Linked DNA regions of Homo sapiens. The protein of the gene in region 1 interacts with the protein of each later gene in a biochemical or structural test. Each region holds a gene or a part of one and is shown on either strand. Other genes may lie near its edges. The genes, in order: DTL, CHEK1, CUL4B and KMT5A.

What was found.
Region 2: of the proteins of DTL (region 1) and CHEK1, one has a biochemical effect on the other in vitro, tested with the Homo sapiens proteins (2 studies listed by BioGRID).
Region 3: the proteins of DTL (region 1) and CUL4B form a complex in vitro, tested with the Homo sapiens proteins (2 studies listed by BioGRID).
Region 4: the proteins of DTL (region 1) and KMT5A form a complex in vitro, tested with the Homo sapiens proteins (2 studies listed by BioGRID, with this or other methods).

Annotation. Positions count from the first base shown.
Region 1 is NC_000001.11:212,094,720-212,101,747, forward strand, and holds part of DTL (denticleless protein homolog), read left to right. Parts: intron 1-5,532; coding exon 5,533-6,365; intron 6,366-7,028. UniProt on the Homo sapiens protein: Substrate-specific adapter of a DCX (DDB1-CUL4-X-box) E3 ubiquitin-protein ligase complex required for cell cycle control, DNA damage response and translesion DNA synthesis.
Region 2 is NC_000011.10:125,635,137-125,642,164, forward strand, and holds part of CHEK1 (serine/threonine-protein kinase Chk1), read left to right. Parts: intron 1-292; coding exon 293-397; intron 398-2,312; coding exon 2,313-2,408; intron 2,409-7,028. UniProt on the Homo sapiens protein: Serine/threonine-protein kinase which is required for checkpoint-mediated cell cycle arrest and activation of DNA repair in response to the presence of DNA damage or unreplicated DNA.
Region 3 is NC_000023.11:120,523,346-120,529,978, reverse strand, and holds the end of CUL4B (cullin-4B), read left to right. Parts: intron 1-3,122; coding exon 3,123-3,218; 3' UTR 3,219-6,121; downstream 6,122-6,633.
Region 4 is NC_000012.12:123,401,119-123,408,146, forward strand, and holds part of KMT5A (N-lysine methyltransferase KMT5A), read left to right. Parts: intron 1-2,454; coding exon 2,455-2,514; intron 2,515-3,520; exon of another isoform or gene 3,521-3,633; intron 3,634-3,765; coding exon 3,766-3,956; intron 3,957-6,374; coding exon 6,375-6,585; 3' UTR 6,586-7,028. UniProt on the Homo sapiens protein: Protein-lysine N-methyltransferase that monomethylates both histones and non-histone proteins. Specifically monomethylates 'Lys-20' of histone H4 (H4K20me1).

The DNA.
Region 1 (7,028 bases):
TACCCATCCTTGAGCGTAGGTTGTGTTTTTCCATTTGTTTGTGTCATCTGATTTCTTTTAGCAGTGTTTTGTAGTTTTCCTTGTAGAGGTCTTTTACTTCCTTAGTTAGGTATATTCCTAGGTTTTGCAGCTATTGTAAAAGGGGTTGAGTTGTTGATTTGATTTGCAGCTTGTTTGCTGTTGCTGTATAGCAGTACTACTGATTTATGTACATTGATTTTGTATCCTGAAACCTAACAGAATTCATTTATCAGATCTAGGAGCTTTTTGGATGAGTTTTTAGGGTTTTCTAGGTATACAATCATATCATTTACTAACAGTGACAGGTTGACTTCCTCTTTACCAATTTGGATGCCTTTTAATTTCTCTTTTCTGACTGACTGTGGCTGGCTAGGGCTTCCACTACTATGTTGAATAGAAGTGGTGAAAGTGGGCATCCTTGTCTTTTTCCAGTTCTCATGGGGAATGCTTTCAACTTTTCCCCGTTCAGTATAACGTTGGCTGTGGGTTTGTCATGGATGGCTTTTATTACCTTCAAGTATGTTCCTTCTATGCTGATTTTGCTGAGTGTTTTCATCATAAAGGGATGCTGGATTTTGTCAGACGTTTTTTCTGCTTCTATTGAAGTGATCATGTGTTTTCGTTTGTTTTTCTCTTAGAGTTTCGCTCTTGTTGCCCAGGCTGGGGTGCAGTGGTACCATCTCAGCTCACTGCAACCTCCACCACCCAGGTTCAAGGGATTCTCCTGCCTCAGCCTCCCAAGTAGCTGAGATACCACATCTGGCTAATTTTTGTATTTTTAGATGGGGTTTCACCATGTTGGCCAGGCTGGTCTCAAACTCCTGACCTCAAGTGATCTGCCCTCCTCGGCCTCCCAAAGTGCTGGGATTACAGGCATGAGCCACCGCACCCGGCCTGATTTTTGTTTTTAATTCTGTTTATATGGTGTATCACATGTATTGACTTGTGTATATTAAACTTTCCCTGCATCCCTGGTTTGAAATCCATTTGATCATGGTAGATTATCTTTTTGATATACTGTTGGATTTGGTTAGCTAGTATTTTGTTGAGGATTTTTGCATCTATGTTCATCAGGGATATTGGTCTGTAGTTTTCTTTTTTGTCATGTCCTTTCCTGGTTTTGGTATTAGAGTGATACTGGCTTCATAGGATGATTTAGGGAGTATTCCCTCTTTCTCTTTTGGAATGGTTTCAGTAAGATTGGTACCAGTTCTTCTTTGAATGTCTGATAGAATTCAGCAGTGAATCCATCTGGTCCTGGACTTTTTCTTCTTGGCAATTTTTTTATTACCATTTCAATCTAAGTGCTTGTTATTGGTCTGTTCAGAGTTCTTATTTCTTCCTGGTTTAATCTAGGAGGTTGTATATTTCCAGGAATTTATCCATCTCCTCTAGGTTTTCTAGTTTGTGAGCACAAATGTGTTCATAGTAGCCTTGAATGATCTTTTGTATTTCTGTGGTATTCGTTGTTAATATTTCCTGTTTCATTTCTAATTGAACTTATTTGGATCTTCTCTCTTCTTTTCTTGGTTAATCTCACTAATGGGCTATCAATTTTGTTTATCTTTTCAAAGAACCAGCTTTTTGTTTCATTTATCTTTTGTATTTTGTTGTTGTTGTTTCATTTTTATTAAGTTCTACTCTGGTCTTTGTTATATCTTTCCTCCTCCTGGGTTTGGGTTTGGTTTGTTCTTATTTCTCTAGTTCTTGAGGTGTGACCTTAGATTGTCAATTTGTGCTCTTTCAGACTTTTTGATGTAGGCACTTAATGCTGTGAACTTTCCTCTTAGCACTGCTTTTGCTGTATCTTAGAGGTTTTGTTAGGTTGTGTCACTTTTTTCATTCAGTTCAAAGAATTTTTTTAATTTCCAGCTTGATTTTGATTTCATTATTGACCCAAAGATCATTCAGGAGCGGATTATTTAATGTTGCATGGTTCTAAGAATTCCCTTTGGAGTTGACTTCCAATTTTATTCCACTATGGTCTGAGAGAGTACTTGATATAATTTTGATTTTCTTAAATTTATTGAGACTTGTTTTGTGGCCTATCATATGGTCTCTATCTTGGAGAATGTTCCATGAATGTTCTGATGAATAGAATGTATATTCTGCAGTTGTTGGGTAGAATGTTCTGTAAATACCTGTTAAGTCCATTTGTTCTAGGGTATAAGTCCATTGTTTCTATGTTGACTTACTGTATTGAAGTCCCCCACTATGAGATGAGATTCTATTTTTGTGTATTTCAAGGTTTTGCTCTAAGATTTAGAACTCCTTTTAGCAGTTTTTGTAAACTATGCTGGCTTGGTAGTGGCAAATTCTCTCAGCGTTTGAAAAAGACTTTCATCTTTTCTTCATTTATGAAGCTTAGTTTCACTGGATACAAAATTCTTGGCTGATAATTATTTTGTCAGCTAATAATTATTTAATAAGGCTAAAGATAAGACCTTTATCCCCTCTAGCTTGTAGAGTATCTGCTGTTAATCTGATAGGTTTTTCCTTTACAGGTTACCTGATGCTTTTGCCTCCCAGCTCTTAAGATTTTTTCCTTCATCTTGACTTTAGATAGCCTGATGACTGTGTGTCTAGGTGATGATCTTTTTGTGATGAATTTCCTGGGTGTTCTTTGAGCTTCTTGTATTTGGATGTCTAGATCTCGAGCAAGGCCAGAGAAGTTTTTATTCTTTTGCCTTTGTCTTTGTTGAATTGGGTTAATTCAAGAGCCTTGTCTTTGAGCTCCAAAATTCTTTCTTCTACTTGTTTGGTTCTATTGTTAAAACTTTCCAGTGTATTTTGCATTTCTCTAAATGTGTCTTTCATTTCCAGAAGTCATGATTGTTTTTTATTTATGATATCTATTTCTCTGGAGATTTTTTTCGTCTACATCCTGTTTTGTTTTATTTTTAAATTTAAGTTGGTTTTCATCTTTCTCTGGTGCTTCCTTGAGTAGCTTAATAATTGACCTTCTAAATTCTTTTCTGGCAATTCAAAGATTTATTATTGGTTTGGATCCATTGCTGGTAAGCTAGTATAATCTTTTAGGGGTGGTTATAGAACCTTGTTTTGTCATATTACCTGAATTGTTTTTCTGGTTCCTTCTCGTTTGGGTGGACTATGTCAGAAGAAAGATCTGGGACTCAATGTGTGCTGTTTAAATTCTTTTGTCCCACAGAGTGATCCCTTGGTGTGGTGCTCTCCCCCTTCCCTAGGGGTGGGGCTTTCTGAGAGCTGGACTGCAGTGATTGTTATTGCTCTTCTGGGTCGAGCCACCCAGCAGAGCTACTGGGTTCTAGGCTGGTACTGGAGAGTGTCTGCTAAGAGTCCTGTGATGTGATCTGTCTTCAGGTCTGTATGCCATGGATACTAGCACCTGCTCTAATGGAGGTGGTAGGAAAGGAGTGAAGTGGACTGTGTGAGAGTACTTGGTTGTAGTTTTATTTAGTGTACTGGTTGTCTTGAATGCTAGTTATACTAGCACTGAAGTTATTACATGGACAGACTCAGGACCTCTCTGGTTGGCCAAGATGTTACAGGCAGTAGAATTAGCTGTTATTTTCTGCTTTCTTGGAGCAGGGTTGTTCTGTTGAATTGCTGTAATGGCTTGAATTGGTTGGCCTCCAGCCAGGAGGTGGCACTTTCAAGAGAGTATCAACTGCAGTAGTATAGCGGGGGATATAAGCTTGCCTTACGGTTTCCTGGATAGGTTTTCGGGCTTCTCAGGCAATGAGCAGGGCCCCACGAGTTTTTGTCTTTTGTTTACGGCTACCAGGGCGGTTAGAGAAAGACCATCTGGTGGGGGCAGGGATAGTGTGTCTGAGCTCAGACTCCTTGGGCAGGGCTTGCTGTGGCCTCTGGGCGATGGGAGTGGTGGTTAACAGGCCAATGGAGTTACGTTCTAAGGGAGATTATGGCTGCCTCTGCTGCTTCATACACATCACCAGGGAAATAGGGGAAAGCCGGCAGTGACAGACCACAGCCAGCAAGGCCAGTCTCACTCCTGCAGTGCTTCCCCAACAGCCAACAGAACCAAATTTATATCCATGCCTCCAGTGCACAGGGTGGAGATCTTGCCCTAGACTACAAAACTCCCCGCCGAGAAAGCAAGCAGGGCTGTTAGGCCTTGTCCATCTGCCTGCCACAGCTTCTGTGCTCATATCTGCACTTCCTATTTGTCCCATCCCCCTGCAGATTCTGCCCAGGAAAATTCACGCTCAGTTGAAATCATTACAAAGTTCAGCTGAAAGTCTCCTTCTCCCTATGGTCCTTCCCCAATTCCATTGGCTGCCCTCTCCAAAGACCCCTGTGAGATAGTCAGAAATGGTTTCCCTGGGGACCAGGAGTGCCTACAGGGCTCTTCCTGCTGCTGCTTCTACTTTTATATTTTGTTTGGCTCTCTAAATTCATTTCAGTTCTCCTTCTCCCATGATCTGGATCCTCAGTGAGGATGTGTGCAGAAGTGGACTTTACCCCTCTCACACTGTTTTTTGTTTGTTTGTTTGTTTGTTTGTTTGTTTTGAAACGGAGTCTCGCTGTCAGGCAGGCTGGAGTGCAGTGCATGCGATCTTGGCTCACTGCAACTTCCACCTCCCAGGTTCAAGCAACTCTTCTGCCTCAGCCTCCTGAGTAGCTGGGACTACAGGTGCACACCACCATGCCTGGCTAATTTTTGTATTTTTAGTAGAGACAGGGTTTCACCATGTTGGCCAGGCTAGTGTTGAACTCCTGACCTCAAGTGATCCACCCACCTCGGCCTCCCATAGTGCTGGGATTACAGGCATGAGCCACCACACCCAGCCACCCTCTCACACTTTGGACCTTGAGAGCTTGTTTGGAGGTTCTAGCAGGGGAGCACATTTACTCGTATACCCTTGACTGAAGACCGATTCTCCTCTTATCAGGAATGGTTGTCCTCTTCGACCAAGCACACAGCTTCGGGAGCCCTCTCACACTTTGGGCACTCAATTTTTCTGCTGTCTTGTGGATTTTGCAGCAGCAAGCCACTTCTTTCAAAGGATCTGTTAATTCTTTTGTTTTTTCTGGTATGTTCCTGTGATAGTTCTTGGAGCCAAAGTTCACTATGTGAGTCTCCACATGCTGTTCTGTCTGTCTGAGTGGCAAATTAGTCCTGCCTCCTATCTGCCACTTTCCCCTTAAATCAGTCTCATTTTTGTAAAGAAAAAAGTTGAGATGTATAGTATGTATCACATGCACAAATATAGAAAGTATGCTAAACATGGTTTACGTAAGTGCTTTAAATTTTTTCTCTTTATGTTTTTCGGTATTTTGTCGATTTTTACAAGTATATATTTTATAATGGGATAGTTGGGAGGTTGGTGACTTGGAAAAGAGAAAGGAAAATGATAAAAGGGTGTGGTTGGAATCAAGTGATGTATACCTACTTACTGGCAAATTGACCCTTAGATGATTAGGTTAGCTATGATTTTTCTTGATGAGAATTTAGGGACTTTGTATGGCTTTCACTTCTGATCTTCATGATCCTCTCCTCTTTTTCAGTAACAGTAACGAGTAGCCAGAGTACTCCTGCCAAAGCCCCCAGGGCAAAGTGCAATCCATCCAATTCTTCCCCGTCATCCGCAGCTTGTGCCCCAAGCTGTGCTGGAGACCTCCCTCTTCCTTCAAATACTCCTACGTTCTCTATTAAAACCTCTCCTGCCAAGGCCCGGTCTCCCATCAACAGAAGAGGCTCTGTCTCCTCCGTCTCTCCCAAGCCACCTTCATCTTTCAAGATGTCGATTAGAAACTGGGTGACCCGAACACCTTCCTCATCACCACCCATCACTCCACCTGCTTCGGAGACCAAGATCATGTCTCCGAGAAAAGCCCTTATTCCTGTGAGCCAGAAGTCATCCCAAGCAGAGGCTTGCTCTGAGTCTAGAAATAGAGTAAAGAGGAGGCTAGACTCAAGCTGTCTGGAGAGTGTGAAACAAAAGTGTGTGAAGAGTTGTAACTGTGTGACTGAGCTTGATGGCCAAGTTGAAAATCTTCATTTGGATCTGTGCTGCCTTGCTGGTAACCAGGAAGACCTTAGTAAGGACTCTCTAGGTCCTACCAAATCAAGCAAAATTGAAGGAGCTGGTACCAGTATCTCAGAGCCTCCGTCTCCTATCAGTCCGTATGCTTCAGAAAGCTGTGGAACGCTACCTCTTCCTTTGAGACCTTGTGGAGAAGGGTCTGAAATGGTAGGCAAAGAGAATAGTTCCCCAGAGAATAAAAACTGGTTGTTGGCCATGGCAGCCAAACGGAAGGCTGAGAATCCATCTCCACGAAGTCCGTCATCCCAGACACCCAATTCCAGGAGACAGAGCGGAAAGAAATTGCCAAGCCCGGTAAGTCAGCAGTGGTGGGAAGATACATTTCCTAACTTAAAAGGGGCCAGACACCCAGATGTCTCAAGTCAGGATGCTTTTTTTTTTTTTTAAAGAAAGAAATCTATTTATTCCTAGTGCTGCCAAATTCAGCACATAAATACAAAACAAATTTTGCATGGGCCATATTTTTAGTAAAAATGTTTTATGCTAAGAAACTATTTTTGTTTGTCTGAAATTCAAATGTAACTGAATGTGCTGTATTTTATCTGGCAACTCTACTTACTCCCATTAAAATCCCTCCTGTCAGGGTCCATACTCCTCAGCCCTGTTGCCTGATTGACCAAAGCCTTCATCATGCTCCAGGATATCAATTCAAAAATATCTCCCCTCTCCTGTTAGACAGTATGCCATCCTCTTTTTATAGATAAAGCTGTTGTTCATGGGAAAGTTGCCAACATCCATAAGTAGATTTCCAGTTTGTAATTCCATTTTGTGATTATTTAAAATACAGTGAAACTTAGATACTTACAAAACAATTTGAGTGCAAAATCTTTCTAGATTTTTATGACTTCTCCACAATCTTTTATAATCATTTTGCCACACCACAGTAATACTTTTGACACCTATATCTATTCTTTTTAACATTCAGTGTAGTGTCACTTATCTTTTTAGGACTCATTT
Region 2 (7,028 bases), on another chromosome or scaffold:
TTTGTAGAGATGGGGTCTCACTATGTTGCCCAGGCTGGTCTTGAACTCCTGGGCTCAAGCAGTCCTTCTGCCTCAGCCTCCCAAAGTGCTGTGATTACAGGCCTGAGCTGCCATGCCTATCCTGATTCATCTATCTTTGAAGTGCCTCTAAAGTTTCCAAGTTGGGATTCTTAGTGTGAAAACCATATTGAATTAATTCAAAGGAAACTTTTCATGGATTTATATTATTATTTTTCCTTGAAATCTTTATAATAAGAACATTTAAAAAAACTGGGACTTGCTTTGTTTTTAGAATTGCCATGGGACCAACCCAGTGACAGCTGTCAGGAGTATTCTGACTGGAAAGAAAAAAAAACATACCTCAACCCTTGGAAAAAAATCGATTCTGCTCCTCTAGGTAACTGAATTATCTTGAGTGAAAGAGTACCGATTTCTTGGATATGAAGTCTTGTGCTATTTGAATTTTTTCTTACTTTTTTTTTTGTTTTAAACTTACAAATAATTCATGTTCGTTGTAGATAAAATAGTAACTATAAGTAAAAAATTAAGGAAAAAATAACTCTTTAGTCCCAGAACTCTGCAATAGATTTTTAAAAATATTTTGGGGAGTGTATATTCAGAGCAACTTGAATCTGCTCTTAGATGGCTTTTTACTTAAAGTTTTCATATGTGCTATACTTTGTTGCAAATACACTCGTTTGTTGCTTAATTATAGGGATGCACTCTAACAAATGTTTCATTAGGTGGTTTCATCATTGTGTGAACATCATAGAGTATATTTACATAAATCTAGATAGTATAGCTTACTATAAATCTAGGCTATTTGGTATACCCTATTGATCTCAGGCTGCAAACCTGTACAGCATGTTACTATACTGAGCACTGTAAGGAATTGTAACATAATGGTATTTGTGTATCTAAGTATAGAAAAAGTATAGTAAAAATACAGTATTATAATCTAATGGGACTGTCTGTTATACGTGTGGTCCATTCCTGACTGAAACATCATTAATGTGGCCCATAAGTATGTAAAATGAATATATGTATATTATTTATATGTGTTTTTATACAAAATGAGATCACACTAATAATATTTTGTAACTGTTTTTGGTTTTAGTGCGCAGCGAACATTCTTCCATGACTATAATTGTAGGTCTACATCGTTGGTTTAAAGGCTGTGATAATATTCTGCCATGTGGATATGCCTTACTTTACTCTTTTAATCACTTTGTTGGAGATTTTTCTAAATTTTCACAGATACAAAAGAGATATAAGTATCTGTGTAACTTAATCATGACACATACCCTTAAATTGTTCATTGAAATCCCCAGAAGCAAAATTGCAGGATCAAGGATGTAGTTTTTATTATTATGGCTTATTTTGTCAAATTGCTTCCCGAAAGTTCGAACCATTTCATCACAGTCTCATCAATTTACATTAAGGAAAAAAACTTTAAATAATAGTTTTTCATTTTTATTTTAAATTTAATACTAATGAAGTTGTATACCCTTTATGTATGTATTAGTTTTTTGTCTATTTTGCTCATTTTTGTCAAGGATATTGTTTTTCTTACCACTTTGAAGCTTTTTTTTTTCCTTGATAACACATTGACCTTTGCACTTGTTACAAATACTTTTCACAATTTATCATTTATTTTCATTTTGTTTTGCTATATTGACATTCAAATCTATTATCTTGTCCTTTGTGGTCCCTGACTATAATTTCTTTGGAAAGGTCTTCTACCTCTACTATTTAAAAGTTCCCTATGTTTTCATTTAGTGTTTTTATGGCTTCATTTTTCCATTTAAATCTTTGGTCCATTAGGAAATAATCTTCACATAGGAAGATACGTGAATTTTTTCTCAAGAAAATTAAGATACCTTAGGATGGTTAGTTAGATTACTGTCTCTTAAAAAGTTATTGGTAAGTAAATGTTCATTATAAAACTGTGTGAATAAGGAGGTCACGTGAGAACATGACATTGAAGTAATGAAATTCGGTATTGAAAATGGATAAGAGGGGTTTCTGTATCTTTTTGTTAATCTCGTCACATGAGGAGAAACATTTCCATCTGGCTCTTGTTCTCAGTTGCAAACAATTGAGAATCAGATCAGGGAAGACTACTCCAAGATACAGCAGCAGAGAAAAACTGCATGAAATTAAAGCAGTAATTTAGTAGCTTTAATTCTTTCTCTTCCCCAGGAATAATATTTAGACATAAGTAGGCTAACAGAAAATGTGTTTCTTACCTCAAGCCATAGGCTTCTCTAACATGATTCTTTCGTGAATGTTGTCGTAATGTTTGTTTTTAGCTCTGCTGCATAAAATCTTAGTTGAGAATCCATCAGCAAGAATTACCATTCCAGACATCAAAAAAGATAGATGGTACAACAAACCCCTCAAGAAAGGTAATATCCTTAAACTACAAGTTTGTTTGTTTTTCTGTGGAAGAAAAGGTAATTGCAAAGTTATTATCACAAGTCAACAACACATGATAGCTATGATCTCTGTCCTCATGGAGATTATAATGTCCAGTAGAAAAAAATACAGAAATAATTTTGTTTATTAATAATTATAAAGGGGAAAGTCAGGGTACTATAGCTAAGTGTTTGACCAAGTCTAAGGGACAGGGAAGACTTTTCTTCCTGAAGAAATTACATTAAATCTAAGATTTGAAGATTAAAGGGAAGCTAGGCAGGCAAAGTAAGTGGCAGATTTGATTCTGAACAGGGGAAGCAGTATTTGAAAAATCTTAGATTTTAGAAAGTCTGATGCTTTTGAGAAACTTGAAAGATCAGTATGGCACAAGCCGTGTCTGTTGTGTTCATCATTGTATCATCAGTGCTTTAGCACAGTATATGGTGCACCATAGGCACTCATTAAATATTTGTTGAGTGAGTGAACAGGGAAGTGGGAGAGGAAGACAGGTTTGAGATGAGGCCAGAGAGGTCGCTAGTGGCCAATTTGTGGAAGAAGACCTTGTAAGCCATGTTAAGGATTTTGGGCTTTAACTTAAGACCACTGGGGAGACCTCTGAGAGATTTTAAGCAAGACTATGACATAGTCATATCTTCGGTTTAAAAATATTTCTCTGACTTCCTTATTTTTTTTCCATTGTTTTTTATGAATAGGGAAAGATTCAGGGTGCTGTAGGTTTTTCTGCTAGTTGTCTAGAAGTGGGAGGCTGGTGGCTTGGAATAGGTTAGGGCAATGGTATTGGAGAAATGAGATGATTCCAAAGAAATTTAAGAACTAGTATTGATAGGACTGTTAGGCTGTGAATGGAAGGAGAGAGGACAATGACTAGAGATGATGAATGAAAAACATTCAGAGAGTTATTAATGTTTAACTCTGTCCTCATGGATAGAAAAGAGTTAATGTTTAAACATTCACTCTTCTTTAATACCTCTCTGCATGTTTCTTCCTCCTTGTCCTAACTTAAAGTCCAATTCTCCCCTGAGGACACTGCTTCCTCTGAAGCGGTAGGTGTTTTCTTTCCCATACCCTCATGTCCTTTGATCTGGACATGGTACAGGTGTCCTCCTTATTCTTCATTGTCACTTTCTCCCATCTTCCTTTATGTCTCTCCCCTCTAACTTTTGAACCCCAAATTAAAATTTCTGCCGTACTATCACAGTCTGCAAAATGACTCTTGATGTTATTTTCGTCATGATTCTTGGTGATTTAAATATTTATTTGGATCATCCTCCTGATATCCTGACTTCACTGTTTCTTGACCCTCTCTCCTATAGTGATGTTGTCTTTGAACACGCTGCACTGATCACCAGTATAATTTTTTCTGACTTCCTCCCTTAATATTCTAACTTAAACAGTCCTTTGTATCTGGACTTGCAATTAATTAATTCTATCTCTTCAGTCTCTTACCTGCTCCCTCTCTAGGTCCTTGATTTCATCTTTACCTATCTTAAATCTTTAGGTTAGTCATTATAAATGACTGCTTTGCGTTCATCATCTTCAATTTCCTTGTCCCCTTCTCTCTTCATCATACTTAGTGGGTAAAACCCAGTAAGTAGTTTCTGGGTTTAATCTAGTAGTTTTCTACGTACTGCACACTTGTACCTGCACAACAGATTGCAGCAGGAGAAAAATACCCAAAAATGTTCACTTTAAATTCAGGATTACTAATCTCAAGTGGGCCCTTAATGCTTCCTGGCATTTGGCCTTCGTTTCCCCACATCTTTCTCTGTCCTGTTCTCCTAAATCACGTTTTTATAATACTTTTCTCTTTTTTTTTTTTTTTTTTTTGAGACAGGGTCTAGGCTGGAGTGCAGTGGCGCCATCTCCACTCACTTCAACCTCTGCCTCTCAGGTTCAAGCGATTCGATTCTCGTGCCTTAGCCACCCGAGTAGCTGGGATTACAGGTGTGAACCACCACACCTGGCTAATTTTTATATTTTTAGTAGAGGTTTTGCCATGCTGGCCAGGCTGGTCTCAAACTCCTAGCCTCAAGTGATCCCCCTGCCTCAGCCTCCCAAAGTGCTGGGTTTATAGGTGTGAGCTACTGTGTCTGGTCCCTTAACTTTTATTATCTTCTCTCCATCCTCACTCTCAGTTGTTCACTTTGCTTCCTGTGTCACTGGGAAATGAAAGCCACAAGAGAACTTAGGCAAGCTCCCACCACCATCTCCTCCATACTAACTGCCTCTATGCTCATGTATTCTCTTTCATCCTGTATTGCTGTAGATAAATTGCTCTGGATGTAAGCCAGGTCTTTCTCTTACCCACTCAATGACTTTGTCTAGCAATTTTTCTCCCTCTCCTACATTATTAATTTTTCCTTCTCTACCGGATCTTTCTCATCAGCATATCTACATGCTTTTTCTCCCATTTTAAAATCAAATCATAATGGTAATAAAATTTCTCTTAACTCCACTTTTCCCTACCATTCCATCTTCTTCACAATTGAATATTCCTAAAATTGCTTCTCATCTCTAACACCTCAAAACTAGTTTTCAATTTCATCTATTTTGTTGCCAAGAGTCACAGTGATTTTTGGAACGTGTTGCCAAGTTCAATGTAATAGTCCACTGTGGTCAACCGAGGTCTGAAAAGATTAAATGGAAAGTACCAGAAGTAAACAATTCATCAATTCATGGGTTTTGGCCGGGCGCGGTGGCTCACGCCTGTAATCCCAGCACTTTGGGAGGCCAAGGCGGGCGGATCACGAGGTCAGGAGATCGAGACCATCCTGGCTAACACGGTGTCACCCCGTCTCTACTAAAAATACAAAAAATTAGCCGGGCGAGGTGGCGGTCGCCTGTAGTCCCAGCTACTCGGGAGGCTGAGGCAAGAGAATGGCGTGAACCCCGGGGGGCGGAGCTTGCAGTGAGCCGAGATCGCACCACTGCACTCCAGCCTGGGCAACAGCGAGACTCCGTCTCAAAAAAAAAAAAAAAGAAATTCATGGGTTTTATTTATTTATTTAATTCGAGACGGGATCTCGCTCTGTCGCCCAGACTGGAGTGCAGTGGCGTGGTCTCCACTTACTGAAACCTCTACCTCCTGAGCTTAAATGATCCTCCCATCTCAGCTTCCCGAGTAGCTGGGACTACAGGTGTGAGCCACTATGCCCGGCTAATTTTTGTATTTTTGGTAGAGATGAGGTTTCGCCATGTTGCCTATGCTTTTCTACCAAAAATACAAAAATTAGCCAGGTGTGGTGGTTCACGCCTGTAATCCCAGCTGTTCTCAAACTGCTGGGCTTAAGCAATCCACCCACCCCGGCCTCCCAAAGTACTGGGATTATAGGCATGAGCCACAATGCCCTGCCATAGGTTTTAAATTGTGTGCTGTTCTGAGTAGCATAATAAAATCTTGTGCTGTCCTACTTCATCTCACTTGGGATGTGAATCACTCCTTTTTCCAGTGTATTCACGTTCCATGTGCTACCTGCTTGTAACTCCCTTAGTAGCTGTTTTGGTTATTAGATCGAAAGAACATATATAGGGTTTGGTACCATTTGTACTTTCAGGCATCCACTTGAACATATCCCTCTGTGGATAAGGGGGGTACTACTGTAGTCAGTTCTCAGACCTCTTGTTTTATCTCATCAATATTTTATACAGTTGATCATGCCCTCCTCCTTTAAACACTTTCTTCATTTGGCTTCCAGGCGTTACACTCTTCTGATTTTCGTCCTTCTCACTGGTCGCTCTTTTCAGTCTCTTGATGGTTTTTTTTCATCTGCTCAGCCTCCTACTATTGGAGTTCTCCAGGGCTGAATCTATGGATCTCCTTTGTTTTCTTCTCCACACTCACTCCATTAGTGATATTACTTGGTTTCATGGCTCTAAATAAAACTATATGTTGATAGTCACATTTATATCAACCTAGACCTTTCCTCTGAATTCCAAACTTACATGTCTTAACTGCCTTCTGAAATTTCACTTGAATGTTAAGAGGCATCTCACACTTGATGAATTCCAAACTGAGTTACTGATCTTTTCCTTTCAAACCCATTCCTTTTCAAAGTCTTTCCCATGTTGGTTAATGGCAACTGCATTATTCTTATTATGCAGATCAGAAACTTTGGAATCATCCTTCATTTTTCTCATTCTCTTTTACTTCACATCCAGTACACCAGCTAATTCTGTTAACCTCTATCTTTAAAAAAATCTTAGAATCTGATTACCTTTTTTTTTTTTACCTCTACTGTTACCCTATCATTCCAAATTACCATGATATCTTTCCAAAATGTTCTGATTTAAAAGTGAATTAGAATATATCACTATTCTACCCAAATCCTCCAATGCTTTAGTTCTCACGTGTAGTGTAAGCTAAAATCAGTTCATGACCTGTGAGTTCTTACACAATTTTGTTCCTTACATTACCTCTCCAACCTCAGTTCTGCTTTGCTCCCCCTTGGTCATATTGTTGTTCTTCTTATTGTTCTCCAAGTGCTCTAGGCACACTTCTACCTCACTGTTTTTGTAGTGACTGTTCCTATGTCTGAAAATGCTTTTTCCCATGGGACTTATTTGCATGTCTTATTCTCTTACTTTCTTTG
Region 3 (6,633 bases), on another chromosome or scaffold:
TCCCATGTTGATGCATATGATTTCCAAAAAAAAAAACTTTGTTGGCATATGTGGGCAGCAGTGACAAAAGGGAAAAATAACAGAAAAGCCTGGATACCTGAAAGTTTAACTGCTAAATGAGTGTTTGAAATTTTCAAGTTTATTCACTATATTTCTTTTGAACTTCTTGGTTGGTTATTTACTTCTTTTCCTCTTGAAATACCATGGTATTTATTGAAATACCATGGTATTTGACAGATTTAGTTATTGTGGATTGAGTTAAATCTCCTGTTTAGTTAGCTTATATAAGAGATCATCTGTTAAAAACCATACAGATAACTAGTCATGATTAAGCATCTTTTTGAAAAGTGTAGTGATAGTTCTGGTAAACTGAAATTGGTCATTAAATGGAAACGTTCCATTGTGAATGACCAATAATAAAGTCACTTAATGTGATGTTGTACTGGCCTTTTTTCCAAGTTTTAGGAGGTAGATAGCCAAACCCTTGGATGATAAACATTGATAGAGTTTGAATAGACTGCTAGCTATTAGGGTTCTTATGAGCTTTGGACTTTCATAAATCACTTCACCATGCTGATCTTGTTTCCTCTTTTGTAAAACTGAGATAATAATAGTACTTACCTTGTAGGATTATTGTGAGGTTTAAGTGAGATCATGAATGTAAAAATCTTAGCACTGGACCTGGTACATAATAAGCACTCGGTAGCTCTTAGTTCTAATAAGGTAAGCATTTTCTTTTCTCCAAACCTAATATCGCACTCCTCATTACCACCCTCTCACCCTCATGCTCTGCTTAATAGTCATTTCACCTCAAGCCAGAGAGATCACTGATGCTGGGGAAATTAGGGGATCGCTGTAGTTAATATTGTGCTGATATTCTAGGTCTTTCACCATAATTAAGAGAAGTCATCTGATTTCCCAACCTTGGGATTACTGGATAAAATTTTCACTGCTGTATCAGACTACTTCCCCTCTTTTCCCCTCTTGAACAAGTGGTCATTTTACTTATCCTGAAAAACTTTCTATTAGCAAACAAGATTATATTATATTTACAGACTAGATACATAAGATATATAGTGGAATTTTGTCATCCAGGAGCTTAGAATGCAATCATGAAGATAAAGCTACAAGCTTTCTTGATTACTTTTAAATCACAGGATGCAGAAATCCAAGTCACTTAGATGCACTAAACCAGAAATATGAAGATCTAAATTATGAGGTACTTCATTTATCAAGCCATTTCATGTAGTTTTTTTTTGAGATGGAGTCTCGCTCTGTCATCCAGGCTGGAGTGCAGTGGCATGATCTTGGCTCACTGCAGCGTCTGCCTCCCGGGTTCAAGCAATTCTTTTGCCTCAGCCTCTCGAGTAGCTGGGACCACAGGTGCGCACAATCACGCCTGGCTAATTTTTGTGTTTTTAGTAGAGACGGGGTTTTACCATATTGGTCAGGCTGGTCTCGAACTCCTGACCTCATGATCTGCCCACAGCCTCCCAAAGTGCTGGGATTACAGGCATGAGCCACTGCACCTGTCCAGTATTCTTTTAAATAGTGATTTTTTTTTTTTTTGAGATGGAGTCTTCTTGCTCTGTCACCCAGGTTGGAGTGCAGTGGCGCGATCACGTTTCACTACAACCTCCACCTCCCGGGTTCAAGCAATTCTCCTGCCTCAGTCTCCCTGGTAGCTGAGACTACAGGCGCCCACCACCACACCTGGCTAATTCTTGTATTTTTAGTACAGATGGGGTTTTGCCATGTTAGCCAGTCTGGTCTCAAACTTCTGACCTCAGGTGATCCACCCATCTTAGCCTCCCAAAGTGCTGGGATTACAGGCATGAGCCACCACACCCGGTCTAAATAGTGATTTCATCAGTACGTTTTAAATCTTAATTTATAAAAATGAAGCCAACTAACTCTTGCCCAAAGTAAAGGTGTGCTTCATGAACTATCTTGACAAAACTAGTATTCTGTGTCCTTAAACTACCTTACAGTGCTCATGTGAAGTTACAATAAATGTAGTCTTTTGTATTTAACCACGCGAAGGGTAGCTGCTTCTGGCATGACCTCTTTAAAATAGAAAAGTAATAGAAAGTATTCCGTAACAATATGACAAGGATGTGACAGTTTAATGTATGTATAGTATATAGTACAGGTTGAACACCTTTAATGAGAATCCAAAATCTGAAATGCTCTAAAATTGGAAACTTTGAATGCCAACATGATGCCACAGGTGGAAAATTCCACACTTTACCTCATTTGACAGGTTGCAGTCAAAACTTTGTTTCATGCACAAAAGGTATAAAATTATCTTCAGGCTATGTAAGGTATGTATGAAACATAGATGAATTTTGTGTTTAGACTTGGGTCCCATCTCCATGGTATCTCACTATGTATATGCAAATATACCAAAATGAAAAAGTCAGGACCAGGCATGGTAGCTCACACCTGTGAGTACTGGGATTCCAGTACTTTGGGAGGCTGAGGCTGGGGGGATTACTCCAGAACAAGAGTTTAAGGTCAGCCTGGGCGACATAGCAAGACCCTGTCTATTAAAAAAATTAAAAGCTCCAAAAAAAAATCAAAAATCAAAAACACTTTTGGCGTTAAAGAATCTTCAACATACCTGGGCACGGTGGCTCATCCCTGTAATCCCAGCACTTTGGGAGGCTGAGGCAGGTGGATCACCTGAGGTCAGGAGTTCAAGACCAGCCTGGCCAATATGGTGACACCCCATCTCTACCAAAAATACAAAAATTAGCCAGGCGTGGTGGCTTGTGTCTAGTCCCAGCTACTCGGGAAGCTGAGGCAGAAGAATCACTTGAACCCAGGAGGTGGAGGTTGCAGTGAGCCAAAGTGGTGCCACTGCAGTCCAGCCTGGGTGACAGAGCGAGACTCCGTCTCAAAAAAAAAAAAAAAGAATCTTCAACGTGTATAAAACATTTTTTAACCTGGTTTATTTTCATGATACTTTTCTCTAAAAAAGAGATTTAAATAAATAAAAATTTTAAAAAAGGAGATTAAATTCATGAGCCGAAACTGTTGTCTTTTTAATGGGGTATTAACTAAATGGGCTTGAGCCAATGATAATGAACTTTACATTGAAAATTTGCCTTCTCTTACAGCCTGCTGATCTTAAGAAGAGAATAGAATCTTTAATTGACCGGGACTACATGGAAAGAGATAAAGAAAATCCAAACCAGTACAACTATATTGCATAGAATGTTGGCCTTGCAGCATTTGGTGTCATATGCAGTAGCCAGTGGATAAACTAACCTGTTGATTCAATATTATTTGACTCCTTTTTTACTACCGATGACCAAATGAAGCAGTGTAATTAATGGAAATAGTTGAGTGGACTTTTTCTCAGTGGTTAACATGCCCATTTTAAAGAGTAATACTTACCTTTAAGAAGAATGTTGTTGAACTCTTTGCATGTTATTTAGTATGATGTGCAGAAAACACTTAAGAACGTACCTGGTCTTCATGAATTCCTCTTTGGAACTGGGAAAGAGATCCCTGTGGCTATTAAAAAGGGGGGAGGGTTCTTACACACCATTAATTATGAAGCAAAAGGTTTATTTGCTTAAAATGTCATTTAAAGATACTTAAACTGCATGCAAACTTTATTTACTGTACAGAGTTCTGGATGTATTTATCAAATAGAAAAACCACCCTTGACTTGGTTGTTCACCCGTTTTGTGATTTCCCTTGAAAAGAGAAATGAATTGTCATAGCTATTGATATTTTACTAGGTGATGTTCTGTTACACTGAAAGGGATGTTTTTTAAAAAAAATTATTTGGAAACAAGTTTTCAAGTAGGGGGACAGTTGCTTACATAATATCTTGTATATTCACATCCTAAAAATTTTCATTTATGAGTATGGGATGTGTGTATATGGCTTAGCCCCAAGTTAACTGTGCTGATTAACAAGTACTTATAAAAATAGCTAAAGTAGAAAATTAATGATCAGTTGTACTAGAGGAACATCATAGAAGAGAAAAATCCAACTCTTTATATTAAAAATGAATACAATAAGAAAATTGCAAAAGAGACCAAAATGAACGTGTTTTGTAAATTGTTACAGGAGCAAAAACTTTGCAACTAGTTTTCAACATACTTTAGACTTTAAATGTTGTTTGGACAGTTTTGTCTTCAACTTGGACCAATTGTAGATTGTTACAGGCTTCCTAGGATTTAGCATTCCTATTTTCTCTACCAAAGTTTTTTTTAGAAGCATCCCAACTCTTCTCTTTGTTGATAAATAAGCCTTTCCTGTCATCTTCATTTTAACTTGCTAAAACCCTAGATACAAAGGTCCTCCCTCATTTTTCCCACAGAGCCCCTGTTTGGGAATTTGAGATTCTGTGTCATGCTGGTTTTCCTTTCAGAATTGCTTGAAATCGAGTTCTCTTAGCCACTGGACACCTAGTTTTCAGGAGAATGTCCCAAGATTGTTTATATATACAAAATGGCAAAAGTACTGTTTTTCGAATTGATAATTCAAGCAAAGGCTTCTCTTTACTGTCACTGATTTTTTTTTGTTTTTATTTTGTTTCCTTGTTTCTATTTCCTTGAAGCTTTGAAGGGAGGAGAAGCAGAAAATTTTGTTTATGTTTGTTAAAAATCAGAACTACTTAATGCTTTTTGCCACAGCATATTTCCTTGCCTGTTGGAGCCGTTAGGAAGATTACCTATGTCCTAATCTTCAACCTGAGAAGATTTTTGACTCTTGTGTCTACTGTTGATTGTTTGCTTGAGTTCTCAAAGACCTGTGGCCAGGTATTTTAAAAAGTCGTCTATTTCTTTCTAGTTGCATCAACTTGCACACTGGTGTCTAACTATATGTGGTATTCGGAACTTGTAATTCTTATTGAGCAGCCATTGCCTATATTTTCTCAGCTCCTCACTGATTTCTTTATATGAGCTCAGCTGACAAGCAAATGCAGCTATTTTGTTTACCCTCTCTTCATACCGGACCATCAACAACAGTGTTCTAACTCATCCCTGATGGTCTGTGAGATGTAGACTATTACACAAGATTCAAGTTACTCGTAAGCAACTTTTAGATAGAGTTGGTCCTGTTAGGAGGAGACTCTTGATGTCACCTTCAGTATCTTGAAAGCGGGTCCCCTCCCCGAGGCTCTTAATTCTTTGAAAACTTGATGCTGTTTCAGCTGAAAAATTAGCAAGACTGTTAAAAAAAAAAAGTTGAGGGGAGCTGTTTAAGAAACTGAAAAGTAATTGCAAACTACATTGGATAATTGTGACTTTCAGTTGTTGTTCTGTATCAGTTGAATTTTTGTGCTCTTTTCCCTGTGTACGTGGTGGTTCTATTTTTCTCCAATAAAACTTTTATTTAAAAAAAGTTTCTAGAGAAGATCTTTAAAATTCAAGTATTGTAAGAAAGTTATAAAATCACAGGACTTAAAATCTTCCTAACAACTTCTAATGAACTCACATTTGTTGATTTTGTTATTTTTAAACTTTTTAAAAATTTTGTAATGGTTTTGTGGTAATGCTATAAGAGTATGGGGGAGGGCATGGTTAACAGGGTGAGGAAAATTCCCAGGAATCCTCAAGGTGGATAATTATTCTTAAACATGCGGATACAAGTATAAACATTGCTTCATTCAAATCCTCAGTGTCAAATTGTTTCATAAAGTCAATATGAAATGAGTCTAGATTTGAGTTCAGGGGAGAAGAAAAGATTACTCTTAGTTATGGCATTTGCTCTGCCTTTTCTGTTAATAGTTTTTTGAGTTCTGGGCCAGATACTCTCAGAGTAAGATGTTCCTCAAAGTTTTTGAACCCAGTTCCTGAGTCTGCTTGAATGGTCTTAATATGATGTCTAGCCATACTCTTGAAATTTTTGCTGTGTATGTGAGTGTACAGTTCAGAAAACCAGTTTATCTGGGCATCTGGATCTAAAGATTTGAGAAGTTTGTTTTTTAATCTGGATATTCATAAATCTTTTAAAATGAGCTGGTCTTTGTTTTCATGACCACTCTGTTTAATGCTGTGAATGGCAGGAGTGTTGTGAGCGTGTTCTATTCTCTTATTTACATAAAATTGCCAAAACAAATTGTTCATTAAAAAGAAAAGAGCAGTACTGATGAAAATTTGCATAATTATGCTTTGTAAAATGATATCTTGCTAATGCTTCATTAATGAATATTTTTCAGTGTCCTACAAAAAAACACCTGCTTTACATTTGAATACTGAAGTTTGTTCACCTGCAAACACTTGGTTGAAATCAAACACTTTGCTCAATTATTTTCCTTTTTCCCCTTGCTATTATAAAAAAGGGTATTTCTTCTTTTGAATGGACACATAATGTACCTTTATGTTTAACAATCCTTAGAAGTCATCTCTAGCATAGTGAAAAAGACTCTGACCTTTCTTTTGTAAAACCGTTTCTATTGGATGTAAAATATAAGAATGTGCTGCACTGGCATGTTAGAACTTAATAGTTTTGCCAGCTATAACAACAACAGATCCTCTTCATTTGTTCTCTAATTTCAAAACTTTTCTTTAATTTTTAAATTTTTTATTGTGGTAAAGTACACACAAAATTTACCATTCTAACCATGATAAAGTATACAATTCTGACATTTAGTACATTCACAATATT
Region 4 (7,028 bases), on another chromosome or scaffold:
ATCTATTCCACCAATATATATCTTTCTTTTTTTTTTTTTTTTTTTTTTGAGATGGAGTCTTGCTCTGTTGCCAAGGCTGGAGTGCAGTGGCGCGATCTTGGCTCACTGCAAGCTCCGCCTCCCGGGCTCACACCATTCTCCTGCCTCAGCCTCCCGAGTAGCTGGGACTACAGGTGCCCACCACCATGCCCGGCTAATTTTTTGTATTTTTAGTAGAGATGGGGTTTCACCATGTTAGCCAGGATGGTCTCGATCTCCTGACTTCGTGATCCGCCCGCCTCGGCCTCCCAAAGTGCTGGGATAACAGGTGTATATCTTTCTTTTTTTTTTAACCTTCTTGACCCTTATCTTTCATATCTTTTAAGTGGAACATTTTAGTCCATTTATGTTTAAGGTTAATATTGATATGTGAGGTTTTGTTAGGTATATTACTATTAAATAAGTTTATGGGAAGGTTTTTTTTTGTTTTTTGTTTCTTTTTGAGATGGAGTCTTGCTCTGTCTCCCAGGCTGGAGTGCAGTGGTGCGATCTTGGCCTACTGCAAACTCCACCTCCTGGGTTCAAGCGATTCTCCTGCCTCAGCCTCCTGAGTAGCCGGGATTACAGGTGTGTGCCACCACGCCCAGCTAATTTTTGTGTTTTTAGTAGAGACGGGGTTTCGCCATGTTGGCCAGGCTGGTCTCAAACTCGTAACCTCAAGTGATCCACCCACCTCAGCCTCCCAAAGTGCTGGGATGACAGACGTGAGCCACCATGCCTGGTCATGTTTTCTGTTTTTTTTTAAGACAGGGTCTCACTCTGTTGCCCAGGCAGGAGTGCAGTGTCACAGTCATGACTCACTGCAGCCTCAACCTCCTGGGCTCCAGCAATCCTCCTCCTTCCTCAGCCTCTAGAGTAGCTGGGACCAAAGGTGTACGCCACCACACCTAGCTTATTTATTTTTTGTAGGGACAGGGTCTGGATCTGTTGCTTAGGCTGGTCTCTAACTCCTGTCCTTAAGCGATCCTTCCTCCTGGCTTTCCTGAAGTGTTGGGATTACAGGAGAGAGCCACTGCCCCTGGCCTCATTTACATTTTAAAAGACCCCTCTGGCTACCTTGTGGAGAACTGAGTGTTCCCTGGGGTCAGAGTGAAAGCCTGGTGACTAGCAAGGGGGCCGGAGCGGGGCCGGGGCCGTGGCTGGGCTGCAGGGCCGCAGTGGGAATGGAGATGGAGAGGAGGTGGCAGGATTTGGGACTGTCCTTGAGGTTACTCATTCACCATTGTTCCCAGCACAGACTGCAGCGCCTGGCACATTGCAGGTGTGGATTGAGTGCCTGGAAAAGCTGCAAGCTGGTTTGGGCCTCTGTGTAGGGGGAATGGGCTGAGCTCAGCAGTTGGTGTCAGGCTCCTGACACGTGCCATCTGGTTTGGTGAAAGTCTATGCCGTCAAGACATGCTGGTTTGGGGTGAGCCACACTGGTTTGGAGCTTCCGATCTGTCTTCATTTGGTTCCCTTTTGCTCTGTAGTATCTGTGCAGTGGCAGAGCAGTAGAACCCAGGGTTAGGGATGGAGGTAGGTGCAGGAGGGGTGGCCTTAGAGGAGAGGTGGATCCAGGGGTGCCCCCTCCCAGTTCTCTGTTCAGGTCTGTATTGACCCTCGGGATTGGAGGCCCTCTTCTCATCCATCGTGGTGGCCTCCATACAGGTGAATCTCAGCGATCCCAAACAGAAGTATGAGCCATCAGACCAGAGCCATGTGGACTGCGTGTGTCCCATCCAAAGGGCACAGCCTCTGATCTGCTGTACCCGATTTTCTTTTTTCTTTTTAAGGTGGAGTCTTGCTGTGTCGCCCAGGCTGGAGTGCAGTAGCACAATCTTGGCTCACTGCAACCTCCACCTCCCAGGTTCAAGCGATTCTCCTGCCTCAGCCTCCCGAGTAGCTGGGACTACAGGCTCCTACCACACCTGGCTAATTTTTGTATCTTTAATAGAGACAGGGTTTTACCTATTTGCCAGGCTGGTCTCGAACTCGTGACCTTACGATCCGCCCGCCTCGGCCTCCCGAAGTGTTGCGATTACAGGCGTGAGCCACCGCGCCTGGCCCACTGTACCTGATTTTCTGTGAAGTCAGAGGCCTGATTTTCAGGTGTGGGCAAGTTGGACATTTTTTAACGTGCTGCATGGGCAACAGAACATATCTACGAGCCCCATTCTGTTCTTGGGTCCCCACTGTTTCCCTCCTGATCCAGTTGAACCCCAGGTGACAGATCTTCCACAACAGATGGGTGATGAGAAAAGGAGGGATACTTGGGGGCTTTGCCATCACTGGGGACCCATCATCCCCAGTGATGCCAAATGAGGCCGATTGTGGCCCGGTGGGCATGGCCTGGGCAATCAGGGCTCAAGACCATCAAGCTACGCACGATGGGCCTAGGAGAAGATACTGATGCTGTTTTTCTTTCTCTCTGCCCAGTCTGAAGAAAGGAAAAGAATAGATGAATTGATTGAAAGTGGGAAGGAAGAAGGAATGAAGGTAAGGGGCTGCTGTGCTTGCTGCATCATAGCTAAAGCTGGAAGAGCTCACCTTCCCTGGTCCCGTGGCTGAGAGTGGCCACCATGTGGCTTTCACCCTCTAATGGCCATGGTGACCAGGCAGACTCTATTAGGTTGTCAAAGAGCCAAATACCAAAAGTTGTTAAGGAAATGTCTTATGAAGGAAACATAAATGGGCTTTGTATATAAATGTTATCCAGGGGAAGCTTTTCTTAGAAATTGTGGTTAAACAATTCAGTGGCTTTTTGTACATTCACAATGCAATGCAACCATTATCCCTGTCTAATTTCAGAATTTTTTCATCCTCCCAAATGGAAACCCTTACCCATTACTTACCACTGCCCACCATCCCCACCTCTCCCCTGCCCAGCCCCTGGCAGCCACTCAGCTGCTTTCTGTCTCAGTGGAGTTGCTCTTCTGGGCACTTCATATAAATCGGATTATACAATATGTAGCTGATGCCCAGGGAAACTTTTAAAAGGAGAAACTAATACATTTTTAAACTGTTTTCCTAGATAATGACAATGCCCAAGAAATGTGCTTTTCTCTTACTGTATTTCAACCACACTCAGTTTGGGCGAGAGGAGAAGTACTCTCTACAGTGGGGTTCAGATGGGCCTAGACTAGGGCTCCGGGTTCAGAAAGCTTCCACTTCCACCCACCACCTAGGGGGATTCCGGCTTAAGTCCTGGGCCCCTCCAGCAACCCCATTCAACTCCATGTAGAATAGAGTGAGGAGACACAGGAGAGAAATCGTGGAATGAGGTAGAGACCCAGAACACTGGGCCTGCTGTTTGCCTAGGAAGGCATAGCGCATAGCCCCTAGACAGAGAAACCAGGTGTGTGGATTTGAGCTGTGTCACTGTCTAGCTGTGTGGCCTCAGACACGTGGTTGTGCCTCTTTAAGCCTCAGTTTCCTCATCTACAAAATGGGGCAGTCTCCACCTAGCAGATCTCTCACGAGCTCTGATGTAACTGCTTTGCAGATGAGCACCAAGGAACCACGTTTGTGGAGTGAGGGAACGTTCTAGAGCTGGCCTGTAGTGACGGTTGCACAGCTGTATACACTTCATAAAACCCATCAGCCTGTACATGTAAAGTGAGTGAATTTTATGACATGGCTCAGTACAGCTGTTAAAGACTGGGGTAAGCCCCAGCTCCCCGGAGACCTGCTGTGCACAGTGGCATCCATTGCTATTATGAACCAACACCCTCTCTTATCACCTGACAGATTGACCTCATCGATGGCAAAGGCAGGGGTGTGATTGCCACCAAGCAGTTCTCCCGGGGTGACTTTGTGGTGGAATACCACGGGGACCTCATCGAGATCACCGACGCCAAGAAACGGGAGGCTCTGTACGCACAGGACCCTTCCACGGGCTGCTACATGTACTATTTTCAGTATCTGAGCAAAACCTACTGGTGAGTCCACTGTTGCTTAGAGTGGCTTTTCTGTCCTCTGGGCAGTGAGGAGAGGCCAAAGGGCCAGGAACTCCTGATTCTGTTTGGTGGCCAGTCTTTTGGTTTTGTTGTTGTTGACTTTTTTTTTTTTATTTTTTGAGATGGAGTCTTGCTCTGTTGCCCAGGCTGGAGTGCAGTGGTGTGATCTCGGCTCATTGCAACCTCCTCTCAGGCTCAAAGAATTCTCCTCCCTCAGCCTCCAGAGTAGCCCAGCTAATTTTTTTTTTCTGTATTTTTAGTAGAGGTGGAGTTTTGCCACATTGGCCAAGCTGGTCTTGAACTCCTGACCTCAGACGATCCACCCGCCTTGGCCTTCCAAAGTGCTAGGATTACAGGTGTGAGCCACTGCGCTCGGGCTGTTGTTGCCTTTTTTCAAAGCTGTGATGCAATTATCGCCTGCTTCCTTTTTTTTTTTTTTTTTTTTTTTTTTGAATCTCGATCTGTCGCCCAAGCTGGAGTGCAGTGGCACAATCTTGGCTCACTGCAACCTCCACCTCCCGGGTTCAAGGTATTCTGTCTCAGCCTCCCACGTAACTGGGATTACAGGTGTGCGTCACCACGCCCAGCTAATTCTTATATATTTTTTTAGTAGAGACAGGGTTTCATTATGTTGGCCAGGCTGGTCTGACCTCATATGGTCTGCCTGCCTTAGCCTCCCAAAGTTCTGGGATTACAGATGTGAGCCACTGCGCCTGGCCCCAGCTTCCCTTTTTTTTTTTCTTTTGAGACGGAGTCTCGTTCTGTCACCCAGGCTGGAGTGCAGTGGTGCAATCTTGGCTTACTGCAACCTCCACCTCCCAGGTTCAAGCGATTCTCCTGCCTCAGCCTCCTGAGTAGCTGGGACTACACACACATGCCACCATGCCTGGCTAATTTTTTGTATTTTTAGTAGAGATGGAGTTTCACTGTGTTAGCCAGGATGGTCTCAATCTCCTAACCTTGTGACCTGCCCACCTTGGCCTCCCAAAGTGCTGGGATTACAGGCATGAGCCACTGTGGCCCCAGCTTCCCATTTTTAATCTTTGGAATTGGAGCTGTCCTGGATGTTATCTCATCCAAGGGGAGAAGTGGGCTAGTCACATGAAAACCTGTTAAGCAGCTCACCTGGCTCTCCTTCAGGGCATTTGGCCAGAGCAGCTCTGGAAATCACTAATTGATCTTGCCTGGCTAGGACCAGTGGAGTTGAATTTTTTATTTTTTATTTTATTTTATTTTTTTGAGATGGAGTTTCACTCTTGTTGTCCAGGCAGGAGTGCAGTGGCACGATCTTGGCTCACTGCAACTTCCACTTCCGAAGTTTAAGCAATTCTCCTGCCTCAGCCTCCCAAGTAACTGGGATTACAGGCATGCGCCACCACGCCCAGCTAATTTTGTATTTTTAGCACAGACAGCGTTTCACCATGGTGGCCAGGCTGGTTTTGAAATCCTGACCTCAGGTAATCCACCCGCCTCAGCCTCCGAAAGTGCTGGGATTACAGGCGTGAGCCACCGCGCCTGGCGGGGTTGATTTTTTTAATCCATTTATTTTGTGAAACTCTACCATTTCCTCCTGTGCCTCCATAAAGAGCCCTTTGGGTCCTACCCCATCCCCCCACCCAGGGCCTGTGCAGGCTCTCAAAAATAGCTTTGTGGGCCAGGCGTGGTAGCTCATGCCTGTGATCCCAGCACTTTGGGTGGCCGAGGTGGATGGATCATGAAGGTCAGGAGCTCCAGACCAACATGGCAAAACCCCATCTCTACTAAAAATACAAAAAAATTAGCCTGGCATGGTGGCACACGCTTCTAATCCCAGTGACTCAGGAGGCTGAGGCAGAATTGCCTTACCCCGGGAGGCAGAGGTTGCAGTGAGCTGAGATCGTGCCACTGCACTCCAGCCTGGGCGACAGAGCGACGAGACTCCCTCTCAAAAAAAAAAAAAAAAAAAAAAAAGCTTTGCAAATTGAGCCAGACCTGGTGGCTCGTGCTTGTAATCTCAAAAACTCAGGAGGCCAAGGCCAGAGGATCACTTGAGCCCAGGGGTTGGAGACCAGCCTGAGCAATATAGGGAGATCTTGTCTCTACAGAAACAATTAAAAATTAGCCTGATGTGGTGGCATGTACCTGTGGTCAAAGCTACTCGGGAGGCTGAGGTAGGAGGATGACTTGAGCCCGGGAGGTGGAGGCTGCAGTGAGCCGTGATCGTGCCACTGCACTCCAGCCTGGGTTACGGAGCGAGACCCCCTCTAAAAAGGAAAAAGAAAATAGCTTTATGAATTGAATCTTTTCAAAACACATGGCTTTAAATCAGCATCCCACCAGAGCTGAGCACAAGTGTGACTCTCTTCAGGTTGAAAAGCCTCTTTATCCATTTAATCCTCTCTGGCCCTCCTTCCCCTCCAGCGTGGATGCAACTAGAGAGACAAATCGCCTAGGAAGACTGATCAATCACAGCAAATGTGGGAACTGCCAAACCAAACTGCACGACATCGACGGCGTACCTCACCTCATCCTCATCGCCTCCCGAGACATCGCGGCTGGGGAGGAGCTCCTGTATGACTATGGGGACCGCAGCAAGGCTTCCATTGAAGCCCACCCGTGGCTGAAGCATTAACCGGTGGGCCCCGTGCCCTCCCCGCCCCACTTTCCCTTCTTCAAAGGACAAAGTGCCCTCAAAGGGAATTGAATTTTTTTTTTACACACTTAATCTTAGCGGATTACTTCAGATGTTTTTAAAAAGTATATTAAGATGCCTTTTCACTGTAGTATTTAAATATCTGTTACAGGTTTCCAAGGTGGACTTGAACAGATGGCCTTATATTACCAAAACTTTTATATTCTAGTTGTTTTTGTACTTTTTTTGCATACAAGCCGAACGTTTGTGCTTCCCGTGCATGCAGTCAAAGACTCAGCACAGGTTTTAGAGGAAATAGTCAAACATGAACTAGGAAGCCAGGTGAGTCTCCTTTCTCCAGTGGAAGAGCCGGGACCTTCCCCCTGCACCCCCGACATCCAGGGACGGGGTGTGAGGAAGACGCTGCCTCCCAATGGCCTGGA